Homo sapiens: one gene and its partner. The gene in region 1 interacts genetically with each later gene. Each region holds a gene or a part of one and is shown in the gene's direction. Other genes may lie near its edges. The genes, in order: KCND3 and SERPINE1.

Region 1 (7,000 bases):
AGTGGAATCAGGGATCATTTGAGCCAAAGGGTCTTTTGTCATGTTCCTGTCCAATTCTTCTCATTTTACAGAGGAAGACTCTGAGGCCCAGAGGGTGATCATGGCTTGCTTTCACAAATTGAGGATGGGACTGAAACTGGAATTGCAAGGCCTCATGAGCCCTTGCTCATTGCTGCCTGGGGAAGACAGGGAAAGGAATCTCTGCATCTTGCTGTCTTCTCTTGGGAACATCAGTATTGGGCAACACCTAGATCAGGAAAGCCATTTGGCAGTGAGGTGATCAATGGTCTGTTTGAAAATTGTCAGCTCCCATATACACAGAACTTAGCCACTTTGAAAGAGACTTCTGAGCTTCCTTCTCCTTACCTGTAACCTTTGGGCAGAAAAGCCTTTATCATAGGATTTTAGTGGGAATAAATTAAATGTTGTGTGTAAAAGTGTCTCAGACAGTGTCCAGAGCATTGTCAGTGTTCAATAAATGTTAACCAACTCTGAATTGGAACAGAGTTGAACTTGTGAGCTTGCTTCTCAAACATCCCTTGCCCCTTAGAAATAAATCCTAGCTAAGTGCATGCTGAGGAACTACTAAGTCTCCTAATCCTAAACAAAGTATAGTTAGAAGGGTAAATTTCTTCTAGAAAGAAATACAATGCAGGATGTGTTCCTGACTCTTCTATCAGTAGCATGTGGATTACCCACTGCCATGCATGAACGACCTCCATTCTTTCCTCAGTTCCTCAGTTCCTCAGTTCCAGTAATCAGCTCATCAGGCCTGTGCTGTTTTTCTGTTCTCTGAGCAGTGACGCTTACGGGAAATGTCATTGTCATTCCTATTGTCTTCTGCAGCATCTGACTCAACCTCCCTTTATTAGGGAGAGAAGGGACCTGTGACAATTTCCTTTAGCATGCAGATGGGGAAACTGAGGCAGAGATTGGCTTCTTTAGAAAACTCGACTGAGTGAGTCAGAGGCAGATACTTGAATTGGATTCTTCTGATTCAGATCTGTCTTCAGATTTTACTCTGGAGAAAGAACGCTCACCCTTGGCAACCCCTGAAATATATTAGCAAGGCATAGAGTAAAGTTGATGGGAAAAAAAATGGCACATATAAAACCAGGGGTCCCAGCTCGAGCACCTACTGATGCAGTTCACTATGCTGCCTCCTGGGTTGTGATACAAAAGTGGAGGCATCTCGGCCTTTGCCCGAAAGAGCTTAGTGTGGGATAGGGAAAGTTGGGAAGTGGTCTGGCTGTACTCTTGAACTCCACATTGAGACTGCCTGGGTTTAATGGCGCCGCCTACTTATTACATCCTTTAGACAATTATTACAACTCCTTATGCTTCATCTTTCTTTTGTGGGCAAAACATGGCCTACAGTGGTGTCTACCCCTCAGGGTTGTCGGTGGGATCTCTTGAGACGCTCCATGTAAGTGTGTGGTACTGTGCCTGGCACACCATCAGCCCTCAGCAGACTGCCTGAGATGGAATCCCTATTCTGCCACTTTGGGGTTGTCAGACTGCTATGTCTCAGTAAGCTTTAGCTTTCCTTATCTATGAAATGGGGGACACAACAGACTCTTCTTCCTAGGGTTGCTGTGAGGGTTAAATGAGATAATCCATGGGAGACAGTGTAATGCCTTGCATAGCGTAAGTGCTCAATTGTTAGTCATTACTATTAATTAAGATGTATATAAAGTGTGTGTAATCCTAGCTGCGGGGTGATAGGTGCTAGGGAAGAGGGGCAAACAACGAGTCAAGAGCCCAAAGGAAGAAGAGAATCTCATAGTGAGGAGAGGAGGAAGCATCACAGAGAGAGTGATGAATAGGTAGGATTCTAATAGGAGGGGTCCAGGGGAAGGATATTCTCATGAGAGGGAGGAGTGGTCCAGAGGCAGACCTCCCCAGGGTCTGTCCATGAACAGGTCTTGGTCTTATTGCTGGATACTAGGATGGGTGCCTGGGCCATTGGGCTGGAGTATGAAGCTAGGATCTATTTGTGGGAATTCTGGAATGCCAGGCCAAGGAGTTTGGACTTTATTTTGTAGGTCGTGGGGTAAAATACAATCAGAACCTTGCTTTAGGGAGATAACACTGAGCAGAATGGATTTCAGGGGAATAGGAGAAACCGGGTGGGGTGTGAGAGTGAGAGACAAGAAGGCCCGTGGGAAGGAGGCCAGAGGGAGTTTGGGCCTTCATGAGGGCAGTAAGAACTATTGCCTATTATTTGGCAACTCTTTAGAGAAAAATGGTCAAGGTGACAGCCCTGCAGTTAGGGACGTCATGAAGAAAAGGCGAACAGCAGCTTTTTACAAGGAGGCAGGTTCTGTTTAAACCTGTCCACTTCAGAGGCATCTGAGCAGAAAAGTCCAGTGGCAGCTCAGGAGTTTGAGGGAGGTAGAGATCTGAAAAAACTCAAAGAGTTGGGAGTCAGGAGAAGGTGAAGCAGGTTTATAGGGAGAGATGAAGATCGACTCCCATTACAAGTCTTCGTGTAACAGAAAAAATTTTCCAAGACTCACCTCTTCCTCGTTTATTTAAACTTAGAATCACAGCAGCTGAATTCCAGAGGGCCCAAATAATTCCAAGTTAGGATTTGTTCTGTGTGATCAGTTTAGGATTAGTGGAGATGAGTGTGTCAACCCCAAACAATTTCCAATTTCTGTTACGTGTGTTTCCGTGTCACCACATGCCTTCCCACAGATGGTATACATTTGGGGACTGCAGAGTGATTTCACTATCATCTTTAAAAAGCCAGATTTGGGAAGGTAAATCTGCTTCCCAAAGCCAAATATAATTCTCCGTGCCATTGCTCCCTCTGTCCACACAGGTAATGGGGAAGTGCTTATGCAGTGTGGTTTAGAGAGGTGAAGGGACAGGGTAGCCTGGCTCTGGAAAAATCTCTGAGGGTGGAGTGGGGACCAGGTGAGAGAGGCTGGTATGGGAAGGAGTGTTGTTATATAACCTGAGGGAGTTATGGATGGTGGGCAGATGGAGATGGGAGGAGAGGAATCTAGGGACGGCAGTGAGCGCGGATCGGCTTCTTCTGGGGAGGGAGAGAGACGATGCATGGAAGTCAGGTGAACCAAGAAGCCAAGACGCCCTTCACAGAGCAGGGAAAGAGACCCTGCCCAGCCTCACAACCCTTCCCACGTCTTTCCATCATGGCTCTGAGGGTCTGAGGGGAAAAATTTGATACTAGGTTGCTAGGGCAAGGAGTAGGGGCTAAGTGTCCCTCAGAGTAGCACTTTGCCAGGGAGAGCCTTCTCCATGGGAGTTGGGGACAGAACCTCACCAATCCTGGTGGTCACCTGCCATCTCAGAGAATTTTCTGGACTTGGGCAGCCCCAGCCTCTTCCTCACTAGGGAGGAGTAGAAAGAATTGTTTACCTGATCTCACTCATCTACACCCCGTTCCTGATTACCCCAGTGGGTGAAAGAGTGAAATAAAAATTAGCATGTTTATCCCACTTTTAAATTCATTTAATGAGAACTCATCTACCCTCTCCCAATTTAAATTGGTAATAACGCCATAACCTTTCAGAGCTGATTATTACCCACGTCTTGCCAGATCTTCCTGCTAAAGAGGCCTTCCCTCCAAATGCTCTTGAGCCCTCTTGGAGCTTGACGATTTGTCAGGCAGTCAGCAACATCTGGCGATCCCACCCTGCCGAGCTCCAGGAGCTAGGTGTTCTCCCAGTGTCTGGATGGCAAAGAATCAAGTCCCCTCTCTGTGGTGGGGATTTCAGTTTTATTAATCTGCCCTGGAGACTTTGGCCGTTTCACTCACCAGTGATCCTTTCCTGTGTCCCATTTCTTACCTGCCAGTCGATATGGACTCACCGCTTCTCTCTCTCCCCTCCTGTCTCCCAGGGTTTGCTGAACTAACTCCAAGCTGGTGTGCCTAGCGTCCGCGCGGCTGCCGGCCCAAGAGCTGGAGTCACCATGGCGGCCGGAGTTGCGGCCTGGCTGCCTTTTGCCCGGGCTGCGGCCATCGGGTGGATGCCGGTGGCCAACTGCCCCATGCCCCTGGCCCCGGCCGACAAGAACAAGCGGCAGGATGAGCTGATTGTCCTCAACGTGAGTGGGCGGAGGTTCCAGACCTGGAGGACCACGCTGGAGCGCTACCCGGACACCCTGCTGGGCAGCACGGAGAAGGAGTTCTTCTTCAACGAGGACACCAAGGAGTACTTCTTCGACCGGGACCCCGAGGTGTTCCGCTGCGTGCTCAACTTCTACCGCACGGGGAAGCTGCACTACCCGCGCTACGAGTGCATCTCTGCCTACGACGACGAGCTGGCCTTCTACGGCATCCTCCCGGAGATCATCGGGGACTGCTGCTACGAGGAGTACAAGGACCGCAAGAGGGAGAACGCCGAGCGGCTCATGGACGACAACGACTCGGAGAACAACCAGGAGTCCATGCCCTCGCTCAGCTTCCGCCAGACCATGTGGCGGGCCTTCGAGAACCCCCACACCAGCACGCTGGCCCTGGTCTTCTACTACGTGACTGGCTTCTTCATCGCTGTCTCGGTCATCACCAACGTGGTGGAGACGGTGCCGTGCGGCACGGTCCCGGGCAGCAAGGAGCTGCCGTGCGGGGAGCGCTACTCGGTGGCCTTCTTCTGCCTGGACACGGCGTGCGTCATGATCTTCACCGTGGAGTACCTCCTGCGGCTCTTCGCGGCTCCCAGCCGCTACCGCTTCATCCGCAGCGTCATGAGCATCATCGACGTGGTGGCCATCATGCCCTACTACATCGGTCTGGTCATGACCAACAACGAGGACGTGTCCGGCGCCTTCGTCACGCTCCGGGTCTTCCGCGTCTTCAGGATCTTCAAGTTTTCCCGCCACTCCCAGGGCCTGCGGATCCTGGGCTACACACTGAAGAGCTGTGCCTCCGAACTGGGCTTTCTTCTCTTCTCCCTCACCATGGCCATCATCATCTTTGCCACTGTGATGTTTTATGCCGAGAAGGGCTCCTCGGCCAGCAAGTTCACAAGCATCCCTGCCTCGTTTTGGTACACCATTGTCACCATGACCACACTGGGGTAAGTCAGCGCTGGTGGATGAAACCAGGACGGAGGTTGGAGGGCAGCTGGATGACCTCTGAAACCTTGGATGGTGTCACCATGGGTAGAGGAGGAGGGAGTCCCTTACCCAAGTGTTGGGGGCAGGGGAAGTTGCTCTATCCGAAGGGTAAAGCCCATGAGTCATCTGTTTGGGGGTGGTAGCTTGCTGGGAATTGAGTTTTCTTTTTGAGGTCGGGGCATGTGTTTTATAGAGCTAAGAAAATTAAGTCACCAATTCTTTTTTCAGCCATGCCTTGTGTGCGTGTGAAGTCTCGGGGTGAGGTGATGTCTGCATTTGTATATGCATTTGCGCATATGGGGCAGCGTGGGGAGAAGGTCAGGGCAGTTGTTGGGGAGGGAGGAGACTGTTGAGAAGTTCGGAGGGTTCAGATGTCCATTACCAGAAGACACCAAGAGCACTCTTTTTGGATCCTTTCTGCATTTTTTCTTTGTAGTATATTTTGCAGGCCATTTTCCCATTTGTTATGCTTTTCTCCTGTGCTGCCACAGACACTCAAGCGTTCAGTAGCTCTGAGCAGACTTTCTCTAAGTGACTCTGAACCTGGATTTTTCGCAGTAAGGCACGTGGTTTATTCTTTCTTTCTAAAGCAGTATCAGTCTTGCTTTTTAGTCTGAGTCAGTGATTGAATGACCTGGGTGACTGTGAGATGGTCTGAATGGATCATGTGGTCAGACACAGAAGCAGCAATATCATCAGAAGGAGGGACAGGTGCTCGGTGAGGTCATGGTAATTCCGTCTCTCCGAGGTCTCCTCTCCAGCTGAGGTCACAGAAATGTATTCATGATGCTGGGATGTGAAGCTTTCCATCAGAGGAAGGGGGCTCAGGAAGGAGATTACAGTCTTCACCCTAGCAGGATTATAGCCAATAAAGGTGGCTTTATGGAAACATAGATTTCTTAGGGGTTTCTGCCTCAGCTATTAGAAACCATGGAGCCTAATGCAAAATCCCTCCACAATTCATATACTGGGTCTATATTTGCTTAGGCTAGGAAGCGTTATATTGCTGATGGAGAATTCATGAAGCTTTTTATTTTGTCTTTGACAGTGTGGTTGGTGGTGTCCTGGTGATTTGATTTTTTTTTTTCCTGGCCAAAACCCAGAGGCAATAGTGTTGGTTTTTCCATAGTGCTGCGTATGCTTATTGGGAATGACTGAGCAGGTGACGAGACCTTTTAAAATGATTACATTTGTCATTCTGCCACACACAAGAGGGAGGGAGTAGCAAGGGGAAGAGCAAGGGTGTCACCATCCATTTGTGAAGGCCACATTTGATTGGGGCATTCCCTTTACTTCTTATCTGTCTGACAGAACCACCCTGCCCCTTCCTCCCACTCCAACCCACACACACACACACACACACACACACACACACACTCTTCAAATGGCTGCTCACCCAGAGTGGGTAAGAATGTTTGGTCATTTGACCTTGTTTCTCTTGGCTCAGGTGGCAGATGTGGGCTTTTTGGCACAGTGGGGTATTTTGGAGATAAAATGGACTGGAGAGCTTGTGCTGTCAAGAGGTCGTCTTTATCCCTTTTAGGCTGACCCTAGCCATCCCTTCACCTTCCTGAAGGGGACCTCACCCATGGCCAGACACCTCACTTCCACTTCTAGTCAAGCTCCTGATGTGGCTCTGACTGCCCAGTGCCCTCAGATGCCCCTTGATGGGACTCATGACATCAGAGAGATCCTTCAGGATAGCCATGTGGAGGAAAACAGGCATGGTGATAGCCACCTACTCATTACTTTTTATTAGTAGTATAACAGCATATGATTGTCTACTATATGTCAGCAGTGTACTAAGAACTTTGCATATATTATCTCTTTAAGTTTTTACAACAGCCCTGCAAGGTTGGAAAAAATTCTGTACCCTATAAAGATGCAGAAGCTGAGGCTCAGAGAGACTATA
Region 2 (15,977 bases), on another chromosome or scaffold:
TGACTCTCCTGTCTTAGCCTCCCAAGAAGCTGGGACTACAGGCACATGCCACCATGCTTGACTCATTTATTTATTTTTTGTAGAGGTTGGGGGGGGGGGTCTCCCTGTGTTGCCCAGGCTGGTCTCGAACTCCTGGCCTCAAGCAATCCTGCCACCTTGGCTTCCTAAAGTGTTGGGATTACAGGCATGAGCCACTGTGCCCGGCCAGGAAGGCTCATTCTTGCCTGATGGTGAAAGGACATTTGGAATACCCACATTACAAAAGACCCAGCACTAAGTGCCCTCAGGAAATAAGACACTTTGATGGCCACATAAGTTTAAATACAGAAATAACTGTAAGACAAGGGAGAATGCAAATATATAAAAGTGATAAAAGCTAAAAATTAGCTGGGTGTGGTCGTGCATGCCTGTGGTCCCAGCTGCTCAGGAGGCTGAGGTGAGAGGATTGTTTGAGCCCAGGAGTTGGAGGCTGCAGTGAGCCATGATCACACAACTGCACTCCAGCCTGGGCAACAAAGTGAGACCCTATCTTAAAAAAAAAAAAAAAAAATAGACTGGGCGCGGTGGCTCATGCCTGTAAACCCAGCACTTCGGGAAGCTGAGGTGGGAAGATCAGTTGAGCTCAGGAGTTTGAGACCAGCCTGGCCAACATGGTGAAACCCTGTCTCTACTAAAAATCCAAAAATTAGTTGGGCATGTTTGTGCAGGCCTGTAGTCCCTGCTACTCAGGAGGCTGAGGCACGAGAATTGCTTGAACCCGTGAGGTGGAGGTTGCAGTGAGCTGAGATCGCGTCACTGCATTCTAGCTTGGGTGACTGAGTGAGACTCTGTCTCAAAAAAAAAAAAAGATAAAATTGGCTATGGTAGAGCATACATTTTTTTTAAGTGATTAAAGCATTATAGGTGCCATAGAGGAATCGATGAGAGATGGGAGATGGAGGCTGCAGGGGCCTAGCCTGGAAGAGTGGGTCGAGCTCAACTCCATTTTGGTAAATCAAGTCTCCTTCCTCCCTGGTATGCTCAGAAAATAAGGATACACTTGGGACAAAAGCGGGGTACATCCATGACCTGCAGCCCAGAGGGGAATATCTTCCTGGGATCTGAAACCTGCAAAGTCAGCCAATGGGAGCGTGTCAGGACCAGGGAGACAGCAGAAGGATCTGGTATGAAACAGATGAGAGGGGCTGCCAGGCATCCCCTCGGGTAAGCAGCCAGCCCACTTCCGAGGCATTTAACGCCCACGCTCCGCTAAATGCTGAGAGACGTAAAAACAAACACCTCAAACATCCATCCCTCAAGGAGCTTGCATTATATCAAAATGAACAGCTCAGACTGTCTGGGTTCCTGTCCTGGCTCTGCTGCCCACCAAGAGCGGCTGCCACAAAGGAGAACATTTGTTCTTGCCAAATGTGTTGGACATTTGGCAGATGACGTTTTATGTAATTCTCATTGCAACCTTGAAAGATGGGAATCGTTATCTGTCTTTTACAAATAAGAATACTGAGGCTGTGATCCCTAAATCATAGGGAAGGAAGGAAGGGAGGGAGGGGGAGGGGAGGAAGAGGAGGAGGAAGAGAAGGAGAAGGAGAAGGGATTAAGTTTTACCTAGTCACATAGCCAATGTCAGATTCCTAACTAGTGGCCGGGTCTGTCTGATCCAATGATCACTATTCTCTCATTTATGGTGTAGTCACTGTGTGGCTTCAACCACAGTGGACCTCTCTGGACCTAAGTGCCCTCACTTGTAAATTAAAAGAACTGGGTTAGGGCCAGGCATGGTGGCTCATGCCTGTAACCACAGCACTTTGGGAGGCTGAGGCAGGTCGGTCACTTGAGCTCAGGAGTTCAAGAACAGCCTGGGCAACGTGGCAAAACCCCGTCTCTACCAAAAATACAAAAAATTAGCCAGGTGTCATGGTGTACATCTGTGGTCCCAGCTACTGGGAGGCTGAGGTGGGAGGATCACTTAATCCCGGGAGGTAGAGGCTGCAGTAAGCTGAAATGGCACCACTGCACTCCAACCTTGAGCCCAGGAGTTTGAGACTAGCCTGGGCAACATAAAGAGACCCTCATCTCTGAAAAAAAAAAAATTAGGCGGGGCACAGTGGCTCACATCTGTAATCCCAGCACTTTGAGAGGCTGAGGAAGGCGGATCACTTGAGGTCAGGAGTTCAAGACCAGCCTGGCCAACATGGTGAAACCCCGTCTCTACTAAAAATACAAAAATCAGCTGGGCGTGATGGCAGATGCCTGTAATCCCAGCTACTTGGGAGGCTGAAGCACTATAATTGCTTGAGCCTGGGAGGTAGAGGTTGCAGTGAACTGAGACCACACCATTGCACTCCAGCCTGGGCAAGAAGAGCGAAACTTTGTCTCAAAAAAAAAAAAAAAAAAAAAAAAAAATTGGCGGGGCATGGTGGTGCACACCTGTAGTCCCAACTAGCAACTCCTCAGGAGGCTGAGATGGGAGGATCTCTTGAGCCTGGGAGGTCGAAATGCAGTGAGTCATGACTGTGCCAAGGCTGGGAGCCATGATTGTGCCACTGCACTCCCACCTGGGCAACAGAACGTGGCCCCCACTCAAAAAAAAAATGCAATTGTGGACAAGCAAGGGCTACATTGGGTAAGGCAGCACCAGTTAGAGTGTTAGGGAGTTTAAAGAGAAATGACCGGCCAGGGGCTGGCAGGGGAGAGGGGATACAGCAGGAGAGGAGGGGGAAGTCAGTCACAGAGCCAGGGTAAGGAAGGGCCCCTGGACAGGCTGTCCCAGAGCCACGATCTTAAATAAAAGGCAGTGGAGGGCCAGGCGCAGTGGCTCACGCCTATAATCCCAGCACTTTGGAAGGCCGAGGTGGGTGGATCATGAGGTCAGGAGATCGAGACCAGCCTGGACAACATGGGGAAACTAGTCTCTACTAAAAATACAAAAATTAGCCAGGCATGGTGGCGCATGACTATAATCCCAGCTACTCGGGAGGCTGGGGCAGGAGAATCGCTTGAACCTGGGAGGCGGAGGATGCAGTGAGCCAAGATCACACCTCCGCACTCCAGCCTGGGCAACAGAGCAAGACTCCATCTCAAAAAAAAAAAAAAAAAAGGCGGTGGAGACACCCAGCACTGGTTCCCTCCTAGAGAAGGGGAGAGAGCCGAGCCCAAACACAGGCTATTTTTGGAGTTGTGTTGTTTGGAGAGCAACCAAGCCAGAAATAGTGCTGTTAGCAAGACCCTGCCTTCTCCAACCCCCGGCTCTCCCAGTGAAATCACCAGGAATCAGGGAGGCTGGGCCCCACATTCCAGGGAGCCTGTGTAACAGGCAGTGCTCTCTTCCCCACCGGAAGGGCTTGGGAGCTGAGCATTTGACTGTAAAAGGGATTCTGGGATTCCAGAGGGACAGAGGGACTGAGTCAGAGAGAGAGAGAGAGAGAGAGTGGAAATGGGGGGCAACCTCCTGCAGCGGAGGAGAGGGGACAGGAGGGAAGGCTCGGGGAAGAAAGGGTAGGCAGGAGGTCAGAGAGAAGGGAGCAGGAAGCGGGAGGCTCAGAGAGAGAAAGGGAAAGTGAAAAAGAAAGCGGGGAAGACAGAAGCAAAGAGGAAGAGCAGAGATCGGGCCAGAAGGCGGGAGGTCAGGGGGCGATGGGTGGTGGGAAGGCCAGTGTCCACCCAGGGCCCACCAGTGGGTGGGGGACAGAGGGACAGTCATGGAAAATCTGAGTGTGATCTACAGTCACGAACCACCTGCTCAGGGACAGATGGAGACATCTTTCCCAGTAGCTGGAATCAGAACTTTCCCCTGAAATCCACAGCCCGGTAACTCACTCTCTTATCTCTGACCCTCCGGAAGCCAGAGATCTAGCTATTTCATCAGCATGGACTTTTCTTTCTGTGCCCGTGTGACCCCTTACAAAAGAGCTCAAGCTGGAAAGAGAGGATTGGATCAAGAAAGAGAGAACTTAGGATTCAGGGGAAAAGGGGAAAGTGATAACCCCTTGAGTCAGATTCTGAGAAGAGGGTTTCTCTGAGAGGTCGGTGGGGAGCAGCCCGCAGGCAGCTGGACCCTGGTATGGAAGGGCTCGGCTCCTAAGGCAGGTAAGAGAAGGCAGGGCCACGTGCATGAAGTAGAGGCAGGGGTCATGGCCAAGTCTGGGTTCTTTTTATTTATTTATTTTTTTGAGACAATCTTGCTCTTTCGCTCAAGCTGGAGTGCAGTGGTGCAATCTCAGCTCTCTGCAACCTCCACCTCTTGGGTTCAAGAGATTCTCCCACCTCAGGCTCCTGAGTAGCTGGGACTACAGGTACGTGCCGCCATGCCTGGCTAATTTCTGTACTTTTTTTTTTTTAGTAGAGACGGGGTTTCACTCCAAGTCTGGGTTCTAGAGTAGCTAGGCAGCCCCAGCTCATCAGAGTCAATGGAGAAATCGGAAACTTCACATGGACCCGATAACACAGGTTTTGCCTCAGTTTCTAATACACATCTTCCCTATGCCTACAAGTTTCCACCGATTTGGGAAAAGACCTCTTAGTAAGTCAGCCACTTCTGAGTCCAAAGTAAAACGCTCCCCACCCTCCACCCCAATCAGGACTAGAGCTGCTCCCCAGCTCTCCCGTGCCCAAGGATGGAATGTCCTTTTTGCTCTTTGCTTTGTCCTTTGAGACAGGGTCTCTCTTTGTCACCCAGGCTGGAGTGCAGTGTTGCAATCATAGCTCACTCCAGCCTTGAGCTCCTAGGCTCAAGCGATCCTCCTACCTCAGCTTCCCATGTAGCTGGGACCATAGGCACACGCCACCACACTGGGCTAATTTTTTTTTTTTTTTTGGTAGAGATGGGATCTCACTGTGTTGCCCAGGCTGGCTCAAATTCCTGGGCTCAAGTGATCTTCCTGCCTCAGCCTCCCCAAAGACTGGGATTACAGGTGTGAGCCACCACACCCAGCAGGGGTGTCTATTTTGGATTGGCATCAGGATCATCCACCCAATCTATGAGTGGGGACTAAATTGGTGACTGCTCCTGCAGAGCTCTGGCTGTCCACAGAAAACAGCAGAGACCTGGCAAGGTATGGGACAATGGCTCCTGGTATGACAGGCAGAGGAAGGGATGGAGGCTAAGCTGCAGCCTGGAGAGGCTGGCGTCAGACACCTGAGGAGGCCACATCTAGCTATGTCTAGACCCATTGAACTTTCAAGTCTTCGAGGCTTGGTACTGCCTGATCCCTGTTCCCCTCTGATCCTTAAGGTCAGAGAGCAAAGCCTTGCGGGGTACTTTTTTTTTTTTTTTTTTTGAGACAGATTCTTGCTCTGTCACCCAGGCTGGAGTGCAATAGCATGATCTCGGCTCACTGCAACCTCCACCTCCCAGGTTCAAGCGATTCTCCTGCCTCAGCCTCCCAAGCAGCTAGGATTACAGGCACGCACCACCATGCCTAGCTGATTTTTATATTTTTAGTAGAGATGGGGTTTCATCATATTGGCCGGGCTGGTCTTGAACTCCTGGCCTCAAGTGATCCACCTGCCTTGGCCTCCCGAAGTGCTAGGATTACAGGTGTGAGCCACCATGCCCTGTCTTGGGGTACTTTTGAGGACAAGAGTTAAGTTCGGGACTGGGCATGTTGGCTTATACACTTTGGGAGGCAAAGGTGAGAGGATTGTTCCAGCCCAGGAATTTGAGACCAGCCTGGTCAACATAGCAAGACTCTGTCTCTATAAGAAAAAATAATAATTAGCTGGGCGTGGTGGTGCTTGCCTGTAGTCCCCGATACTTGCTTGAGCCCAGGAGTTCAAGTCTGCAGTGAGCTATGATCACATGACTGCACTCCAGCCTTGGTGACAGAGTGAGACCCTGTCTCCAAAAAAAAAAAAAAAAAGAGATGGGTTTGGGGCTGGACTTGTCTTCTTCCAAGAGGTCAGGGCAGTTGCTTCTTCCTCACCGCTAACCACACTCTCAGGGACTCCAAACCACAACTAAGAAAAGGAAAAAGACATAAACAAGAGGCAGTTTCACAGGAAGAGTTCTCCTAATGTGTCTGTGAGCCTAACTTTCCGACTGTGGTTCTCCTCTCTTTCCCTGCCAGCTGTGAGAAAACAAAGCCTAAGGCAGATTAAAAAGCAGGAGGGCTGCTCAGTGTGGTTGCCCTTGGTATCTGTTTACTGAAAAAATCCAAAACAAACATCCGACGCTTCCACCCACTGAAACTTCCTGTGACTCTGCTATCAGCTGTTGCCATGGATTCTCCCAACTGAACCCCACCACATACACTAAACCCAACAGTCCGTGGACCCCAAGTATGCCATCTCTCCAATACAGGACCCCCTGGGCAGCACCCTGGCCACCCTTCCATCCACAACATCCAGACCACACGGCCAAGGGCACCTGACCCTGTCAAAACCCCAAATCCAGCTGGGCGCGGTGGCTCATGCCTGTAATCCCAGCATTTGGGAGGCCGAGGCAGCCGGATCACGAAGTCAGGAGTTCGAGACCAGCCTGACCAACATGGTGAAACCCCGTCTCTACTAAAATACAAAAATTAGCCGGGCGTGGTGGTGCACACCTGTAATCCCAGCTACTCGGGAGGCTGAGGCAGGAGAACCACTTGAACCTGGGAGGCGGAGATTGCAGTGAGCCAAGATAGTGCTACTGCACTCAGCCTGGGCAACAAAATAAGACTCCGTCTCAAAACAGAAAAACAAAAAAAACAAAAAACAACAACAACAACAAAATCCACTAGTCTAGCCCTACATGCTCACCCACTGCTAGCCAGTTTCCACCCTCTACAGCAGAGGTACCCAACCTCTGGGCCAGGGGCCCGTACTGGTCCATAGCCTGTTAGGAACCAGGCTGCATAACAGGAGGTGAGTGGCAGGTGAGTGAAATTTCATCTGTAGTTACAGCCACTCCTCATCACTCGCATTACCACCAGAGCTCCACTCCCTGTCAGATCAGCGGCGGCATTAGATTCTCATAGGAGCTCGAACCCTATTCTAAACTGTTCATGTGAGGGATCTAGGTTGCAAGCTCCCTATGAGAATCTAATGCCTGATGATCTGTCACGGTCTCCCATCACCCCTAGATGGGACCATCTAGTTGCAGGAAAACAAGCTCAGGGCTCCCACTGATTCTACACGATGGTGAATTGTGGAATTATTTCATTATATATATTACAATGTAATAATAATAGAAATAAAGCACACAATAAATGTAATGTGCTTGAATCATCCCGAAACCATCCCACCCTGGTCTGTGAAAAAATTGTCTTCCATGAAACCAGTCCCTGGTGCCAAAAACGTTGAGGACCACTGCTCCACAGAATCTATCGGTCACTCTTCCTCCCCTCACCCCCTTGCCCTAAAAGCACACCCTGCAAACCTGCCATGAATTGACACTCTGTTTCTATCCCTTTTCCCCTTGTGTCTGTGTCTGGAGGAAGAGGATAAAGGACAAGCTGCCCCAAGTCCTAGCGGGCAGCTCGAAGAAGTGAAACTTACACGTTGGTCTCCTGTTTCCTTACCAAGCTTTTACCATGGTAACCCCTGGTCCCGTTCAGCCACCACCACCCCACCCAGCACACCTCCAACCTCAGCCAGACAAGGTTGTTGACACAAGAGAGCCCTCAGGGGCACAGAGAGAGTCTGGACACGTGGGGAGTCAGCCGTGTATCATCGGAGGCGGCCGGGCACATGGCAGGGATGAGGGAAAGACCAAGAGTCCTCTGTTGGGCCCAAGTCCTAGACAGACAAAACCTAGACAATCACGTGGCTGGCTGCATGCCCTGTGGCTGTTGGGCTGGGCCCAGGAGGAGGGAGGGGCGCTCTTTCCTGGAGGTGGTCCAGAGCACCGGGTGGACAGCCCTGGGGGAAAACTTCCACGTTTTGATGGAGGTTATCTTTGATAACTCCACAGTGACCTGGTTCGCCAAAGGAAAAGCAGGCAACGTGAGCTGTTTTTTTTTTCTCCAAGCTGAACACTAGGGGTCCTAGGCTTTTTGGGTCACCCGGCATGGCAGACAGTCAACCTGGCAGGACATCCGGGAGAGACAGACACAGGCAGAGGGCAGAAAGGTCAAGGGAGGTTCTCAGGCCAAGGCTATTGGGGTTTGCTCAATTGTTCCTGAATGCTCTTACACACGTACACACACAGAGCAGCACACACACACACACACACATGCCTCAGCAAGTCCCAGAGAGGGAGGTGTCGAGGGGGACCCGCTGGCTGTTCAGACGGACTCCCAGAGCCAGTGAGTGGGTGGGGCTGGAACATGAGTTCATCTATTTCCTGCCCACATCTGGTATAAAAGGAGGCAGTGGCCCACAGAGGAGCACAGCTGTGTTTGGCTGCAGGGCCAAGAGCGCTGTCAAGAAGACCCACACGCCCCCCTCCAGCAGCTGAATTCCTGCAGCTCAGCAGCCGCCGCCAGAGCAGGACGAACCGCCAATCGCAAGGCACCTCTGAGAACTTCAGGTAGGAGAAAAGCAAACTCCCTCCAACCTCTTACTTCGGGCTTAAGGCAGAGAACTCGCCTCCCCAGAATCTCCTCCCTCCATGATCCCCCGCTATTCCTCTATTTTCTTTTCCTCGGACCTGCAGCCTTGGGTCGACCCTGCCCTAGGGGTGACTGCAGGAGAGCAGGGAGGATGGTCAGGCGTCACCAACAACCCCATCACCCAGTAACAAGAACCTTGACTCTCTCAGTCCCTCTGCATCAAGACACTTACCCATTTCCCACCTCATGCCTGCTAACTTGAATGAAACAATCGCTGGGAAAGCATTAAGAGAATTAAGGCTGGGCACTGTGGCTCATGCCTGTAATCCCAGCACTTTGTGAGGCTGAGGCAGGCAGATAACTTGAGCCCAGGAGTTTGAGACCAGCCTGGGCAACATGGCAAAACCCTGCTCTCCCAAAAAAATACAAAAATTAGCTGGGCGTGCTGGTGTGCCTGTATTCCCAGCTACTTGGGAGGCTGAGGTGGGAGGATTGCTTCAGCTGGGGAGGCGGAGGCTGCAGGGAGCCAAGACTGAGCCATTGCACCCAGCCTGGGTGACAGAGCAAGACCCTGTCTCTAAAAATGAATGAAAGGAAGGAAGAAAGAGAGAGAAAGAGAGAGAGGAAAGAAGGAAGGAAGTAAAGAAGAAAGAAAGAAAGAAAGAGGAAAGAGGAAGAAAGAAAGAAAAGAAAGAAAAGAAAAGAAAGCAAATTTAAAGCTTATGCAAATCAAAGATGTTGTGATAATTGATAATTGAGTCTGGGCTAAATTCCCCCTGGGCTGCAAAGGCAGAGAGTGGTAATGACTTCTCACCTGCTTTTCTTCTAAGGCTTTTTTACGGGACACAGAGGGAAGGGAGATGGACTGGATTCCAAGATTCCCACAGGGCAAGATGGGCGAAGACTCCCTGCCACTGCCCGGGGATAAGTCAGTCTGAGTGAGACGGAGTGGGATGGGCTTAGAACCTGAACATGTCATGGTCTCTTCCTGCACCTTGCCCTAGTGTTCACTTACCACCTGCTTGCAGGAAACAAGAAGAGCAGGGCCCACAGCTGGCCAGCTCCCCTCCCCTCCCGCCTGTCTTCCAGAACGATTCCTTCACCAGCCCTCTTTCCATTGCTCTAGGATGCAGATGTCTCCAGCCCTCACCTGCCTAGTCCTGGGCCTGGCCCTTGTCTTTGGTGAAGGGTCTGCTGTGCACCATCCCCCATCCTACGTGGCCCACCTGGCCTCAGACTTCGGGGTGAGGGTGTTTCAGCAGGTGGCGCAGGCCTCCAAGGACCGCAACGTGGTTTTCTCACCCTATGGGGTGGCCTCGGTGTTGGCCATGCTCCAGCTGACAACAGGAGGAGAAACCCAGCAGCAGATTCAAGCAGCTATGGGATTCAAGATTGATGGTGAGCCACGGGACACCAGGGGAGGTGGGTGGCATGCAGAACAGACCTACCAGAAGCCAAGGAAAGGCTGGCTCTGGCTTAGCCGAGCCAAGCCCCATACAGCTGTGCTGCAGGGGCCACCCCATCTTCTTCCCACTACACTCCAAGTCACTGGACCCTTGAATCTCCAAGGGTGTCTGACCAGTAGATTTACCGCTTATTCACCACCGTGTGATCTTAACCTCGTTAAGTTTGCCCATCTACAAAATGAGGATTATTTGCTGTCCTAAAGAATTCATGAGCCGGGCGCGGTGGCTCAAACGCCTGTAATCCCAGCACTTTGGGAGGCCAAGGCGGGCGGATCATGAGGTCAGGAGATCAAGACCATCCTGGCTAACACAGTGAAACTCCATCTCTACTAAAAATACAAAAAAAATTAGCCAGGCGTGGTGGCAGGCGCCTGTAGTCCCAGCTACTCGGGAGGCTGAGGCAGGAGAATGGCATGAACCCAGGAGGCAGAGCTTGCAGTGAGCTGAGATCGTGCCACTGCACTCCAGCCTGGGCGACAGAGAGAGACTCCGTCTCAAAAAAAAAAAATAAAAGAATTCATGGAATTACACTTGTGAAATACTTAGCATAGCCATCACTATAGGAAAAAAATCTAAGGCCAGGCACAGTGCCTCATGCCTGTAATCTCAGCACTTTCGGAGTTTGAGGCAGGAGGATCACCCAAGGCTAGGAGTTCAAGGCCAGCCTGGGCAATACGGTGAAACCCCGTCTCTAATAAAAATATAAAAATTAGTCTGATGAGGTGGTGCACCTGTAATCCCAGCTACTCAGGAAGCTGAGACACAAGAATCACTTTAACCCGGGAGGTGGAGGTGGCAGTGAGCTGAGATCACACCATTGCACTCCAGCCTGGGTGACAGAGTGAGACCTGTCAAAAAAAAGAAAAGAAAGAGAGAGAGAGAGAGAAGAGAGAGAAAGAAAGAAGAAGAAAGAAAGAAAGAGAGAGAGAGAAAGAAAGAAAGAAACAAAGAAACAAAGAAAGAAAGGAAAAGAAAAAAAAAACTAAGGCCAGGCAAGGTGGCTTATGACTGTAATTTCAGCACTTTGGAAGATTGAGGCAGGAGGATCACTTGAGGCCAGAAGTTCGAGACAAGACTGAGCAACAGGGAGACCCCTGCCTCTACAAAAAAATTTACAAATTAGCCAGATGTGGTGACACATACCTGTAGTCCCAACTACTCAGGAGGCTGAGGTGGGAGGATGGCTTGAGCCCAGGAGCTGGAGGCTGCAGTGAGCTATGATTGTACCACTGCACTTCAGCCTGGGCAACAAAGGGAAGCCCTGTCTGAAAAAAAAAAAAAAAGAAAAAGAAGAAGAAAGAAAATATTTAGGGTTCATCCAGGAGGCAGAGGTTGCAGTAAGCTGACATCGCGCCATTGCACTCCAGCCTGGGAGACAAGAGCAAAACTCCAACTCAAAAAAAAAAAAAAAAAAAAAACAGGAAGAAAATATTTAGGGTTCATAATTTAAGAACAGAGAAAAATATTCTAGCCCAAAGAAAGGGTTGGGATCTGAGACTTTTGAAGAAAGGAAGGAGATACAGAAAAGAGATTTCATCCTGGAATGAAATCTCCCTCCAGAGAGCCCTGGGAAAGCACGGTAGCCCCCATCCATCAGAGTGGAGCCCCTTGTGGGGGAAGTGGGCTCGGCTGGGAACCCTCAATTCAGCATAAGCCTCACATGTCCTCTCCTCTCTGTCCCGGTGCAGACAAGGGCATGGCCCCCGCCCTCCGGCATCTGTACAAGGAGCTCATGGGGCCATGGAACAAGGATGAGATCAGCACCACAGACGCGATCTTCGTCCAGCGGGATCTGAAGCTGGTCCAGGGCTTCATGCCCCACTTCTTCAGGCTGTTCCGGAGCACGGTCAAGCAAGTGGACTTTTCAGAGGTGGAGAGAGCCAGATTCATCATCAATGACTGGGTGAAGACACACACAAAAGGTGAGCAGGCAGGGAAAGGAAACCCATTTCCTGGGCCTCAAGAGAAAGGGAATTTGGAAATAAATCCACATATCCCAGTTGGGTGCAGTAGTTCACACCTGTAATCCCAGCCCAACACTTTGGGAGGTCTAGGCGAGAGGAAGGCTTGAGGCCTGGAGTTTGAGACCAGCCTGGCCAACATAACAAGACCTCATCTCTTCAAAAAATTTAAAAACCAGCCGGGCATGGTGGTGCACACCTGTAGTCCCAGCTACTTGGGAGGCTGAGGTGGGAGGATCACTTGAGTCCAGCAGTTCAAGGCTGCAGTGAGCTATGTTTGCACCACCACACTCCAGCCTGGGTCACAGAACAAGACCTCATCTCTAAAAAACAAACAAAAACCAAATCCACATATCCTAAAAAATGCTCCTTTTCAGCATTCTCTTCTCTATGGACAAAGGGCTGGATGCTTTAAGAACCAAATCTTAGGCTGGGCACGGTGGCTCACGCCTCTAATCCTAGCACTTTGAGAGGCCAAGGCGGGCAGATTGCCTGAGCACAGGAGTTCGAGACCAGCCTGGCCAACATGGTGAAACCCTGTCTCTGTCAAAAATACAAAAAATTAGCCAGGTGTGTTGGCGCATGCCTATAATCCCAGCTGCTCGGGAGGATGAGGTTCAAAGAATCACTTGAACCCGGGAGGCAGAGGCTGCAGTGAGCTGAGATCATGCCACTGCACTCCAGCCTGGGTGACAGAGCAAGACTTTGTCTCCAAAAAAAGGAACTAGACGGGTTCATTTAAACCCCTGACTGCAGCCCTTTGACATACATCCAATTGAGGACTGGGGACTCCGGGAAACATCTAAAAGGCTTAAAAACTTTGTCTAACTTCAGCCGGGCATGGTGGCTCACACCTGTAATCCCAGCACTTTGGGAGGCTAAGGCAGGTGGATCAAAAGGTCAGGAGTTTGAGACGAGCCTGACCAACATGGTGAAACCCCGTCTCTACTAAAAATACAAAAATTAGCCAGGCATGGTGGCAGGCGCCTGTAATCCCAGCTATTCGGGAGGCTGAGGCAGGAGAATTGCTTGAACCCCGGAGACAGAGGTTGCAGCGAGCCGAGATCGCGCCACTGCACTCCAGCCTGGCAATAGAGTGAGACTCCATCTCAAAACAACAACAACAACAACAACAAAATCGTCTAACTTCCTGATCTTCCTGATCATTGATTTTCCCATAGGTATGATCAGCAACTTGCTTGGGAAAGGAGCCGTGGACCAGCTGACACGGCTGGTGCTGGTGAATGCCCTCTACTTCAACGGCCAGTGGAAGACTCCCTTCCCCGACTCCAGCACCCACCGCCGCCTCTTCCACAAATCAGACGGCAGCACTGTCTCTGTGCCCATGATGGCTCAGACCAACAAGTTCAACTATAGTAAGTCCAAGAGCCCCTTCCCCACAGCCCACAGCAACTGCATCTCATTCCTGGGGTCTCCCAAGGAATACCCAAAATGTCACCCTCTGAGGGAGGAAGACCACAGGGAATGCTCCCCTTTAAGGGAGGAGAGACCCTAGAATATACTCCAGCTTTGACAAAGATTTCCCAAGCAGGAGACATCAGGATAATGGGAACAGAAGACAGGAGGTTTATCCCATGAAGGATGAAGAAGCTGAAATCCAGAGATTCCCTCAGGGCCACATTTGTCCACCTGACTCCAGGGTCTCATCTTCGTGTGTTGCTAGTGTGATTACCTGGGGATGAGAAATCCTGCTGGGGGAGTTGAGGTTAAGAGGATGAGGACTCCAGGTGCTGTGGCTCACGCCTGTAATCCCAGCACTTTGGGAGGCCAAGGCAGGTGGATCAGGAGTTTGAGGTCAGGAGTTTGAGACCAGCCTGGCCAACATGGTGAAACCCTGTCTCTACTAAAAATGCAAAAATTAGCCAGGTGTGGTGGCAGGCGCCTGTAATCCCAGCTACTCGGGAGGCTGAGGCAGGAGAATCACTTGAGCCCGGGAGGTGGAGGTTGCAGTGAGCCGAACGAAATTGAGCCACTTCACCCCAGCCTGGGCAAAAGAGTGAAATTCCATTCAAAAAAAAAAAAAAAAAAAAAAGGATGAGGACTGGGATGAACTGGTGGCTGGGTGTGGGGAAAATGGAAGTGAAGGAAGGCCAAAAGAGACAGAGAAGGCCTGGCGCGGCGACTCACGCCTATAATCCCAGCACTTTGGGAGGCTGAGAAGGGGGATTGCTTGAGGCCAGAAGTTGAATACCAGTCTGGGCAGCATAGCAAGACCCTGCCTCTACAAAAAAAAAATTTTTTTTAATTAGCCAGGCTTGGTGACATGCATCTGTAGTCTACTCAAGAAGCTGAGGTGAGGCCAGGCACGGTGGCTCACGCCTGTATTCCCAGCACTTTGGGAGGTCAAGGCGGGTGGATGACCTGAGGTCAGGAGTTCAAGACCAGCCTGGCCAACATGGTGAAACCCCATCTGTATAAAAATACAAAAATTAGCTGGGCATGATAGCAGGTGCCTGTAATTCCAGCTACTCAGGAGGCTGAGGTGGGAGAATCTATTGAACCCGGGAGGGGGAGGTTGCAGTGAGCCGAGATCATGCCATTGCACTCCAGCCTGGGCGACAGAGTGAGACTCCTTCTCAAAACAAACAAACAAACAAACAAACAAAATACAGAAGCTGAGGCGGGAGGAACATTTGAACCGGATTCGGAGGCTGCAGTGAGCTATGATTGCACCACTGCGCTCCAGTCTGTGTGACAGTGAGACCCTGTCTCTTACACACACACACACACACACACACATGCACACACACAGAGAGAGAGAAATTAGAAGATACTGAATTGGCAGAAGAGAAGGGAAATAGAAATTAAAATACTGAATAGGGGAGCAGTGAACAGGGGATACCCAAAAGCCAAGAGCGAGAGAGAGCCTGGCTTCCAGAAATAGTGGAGAAGCCAGGAGAACTAGGTGAAAACCCAGTGCTGGGTTGCCATCAGCGAGAGCTGGAGCCATTTCCAACGAACCATCTTGTCGTCTTCACAGCTGAGTTCACCACGCCCGATGGCCATTACTACGACATCCTGGAACTGCCCTACCACGGGGACACCCTCAGCATGTTCATTGCTGCCCCTTATGAAAAAGAGGTGCCTCTCTCTGCCCTCACCAACATTCTGAGTGCCCAGCTCATCAGCCACTGGAAAGGCAACATGACCAGGCTGCCCCGCCTCCTGGTTCTGCCCAAGTAAGCCACCCCGCTATCTCCCCGACCTACCAACCCCTCTCTCCTGGCTCCCTAAAGTCACCGCCCCCAGGTTGAATTTCCCAGATCTGTGATGCTTGCAGGACATGCATGTGTGGGAGGCTGATGGGAAACTGTGGCCTGGGTTTGATTATGAGTCTTGCAATCATCCCTCCCCCTGTTTCTGCTGGAGGGCAGGGGACAGCTCTTCCTGACCACACCCCCACATTGACTATCCCCAGAATACCCAGCAAAAGCCCCCAAAAGGAGAGTCAGAGAAATGAGGGAGGTGGGGGCCCAATCAGTCCACATCTACTTAGGGTCGCCCCATCAGCACTTCCATCCCCAACCCTTTCAAGTCAACATCCAAACAAAAGAAATCACTTCCAAGGACGGAGCAGCTCAAAGCGCAGCTTCTAGCTGGGGTTCCAAGAAAGCAGATTTTTCGAAATCCTTCTGCAGAAGGAAGCAAAGAGATTTTTTGAAATCTTTCTGCAGAAGGAGAAGGCTGGAGCTGGGGAACTCCAGAATTATAGGGAAGCCTCCCACCACGCTCATCCCAAATTTCCGGATGCTATAATGCCAGGCTTGGGGAAAGAGGAGAATTTAGTTGGTTAGCTGGTGCGTGCTCTCACTTGCATCCTCTCTCTTCCTCTTTTTTTTTTTTCTCCTCTCTCTCTGGCTCATAAAAATGGAGGTAATTAGTTGTGCCCTGGTGAGAAGCAGAGAGTGCACAAAGGCCCCCTGCTTGAGTCCTCTTCAGGGTTAGCTCTCAGAAACACAATCTGCAGAACAGATTTTTGTTCCAACATCCTTGCAGGAGAATTTGCCCTTAGCTTCCCCCACCCCAGCCAGGCTGAATAAAATTATGCTGAAACTACT

The links.
Region 2: changes in KCND3 (region 1) and SERPINE1 together harm fitness more than expected from each alone (negative genetic interaction), as found in Homo sapiens cells (one study listed by BioGRID).

What each region holds. Positions count from the first base shown.
Region 1 is NC_000001.11:111,979,669-111,986,668, reverse strand, and holds part of KCND3 (A-type voltage-gated potassium channel KCND3), read left to right. Parts: intron 1-3,870; 5' UTR 3,871-3,942; coding exon 3,943-5,048; intron 5,049-7,000. UniProt on the Homo sapiens protein: Pore-forming (alpha) subunit of voltage-gated A-type potassium channels that mediates transmembrane potassium transport in excitable membranes, in brain and heart. In cardiomyocytes, may generate the transient outward potassium current I(To).
Region 2 is NC_000007.14:101,118,796-101,134,772, forward strand, and holds the start of SERPINE1 (plasminogen activator inhibitor 1 isoform 2 precursor), read left to right. Parts: upstream 1-8,308; 5' UTR 8,309-8,449; intron 8,450-9,597; 5' UTR 9,598-9,598; coding exon 9,599-9,869; coding exon of another isoform or gene 9,870-9,893; intron 9,894-11,625; coding exon 11,626-11,859; intron 11,860-13,079; coding exon 13,080-13,274; intron 13,275-14,899; coding exon 14,900-15,098; intron 15,099-15,977. UniProt on the Homo sapiens protein: Serine protease inhibitor. Inhibits TMPRSS7. Is a primary inhibitor of tissue-type plasminogen activator (PLAT) and urokinase-type plasminogen activator (PLAU).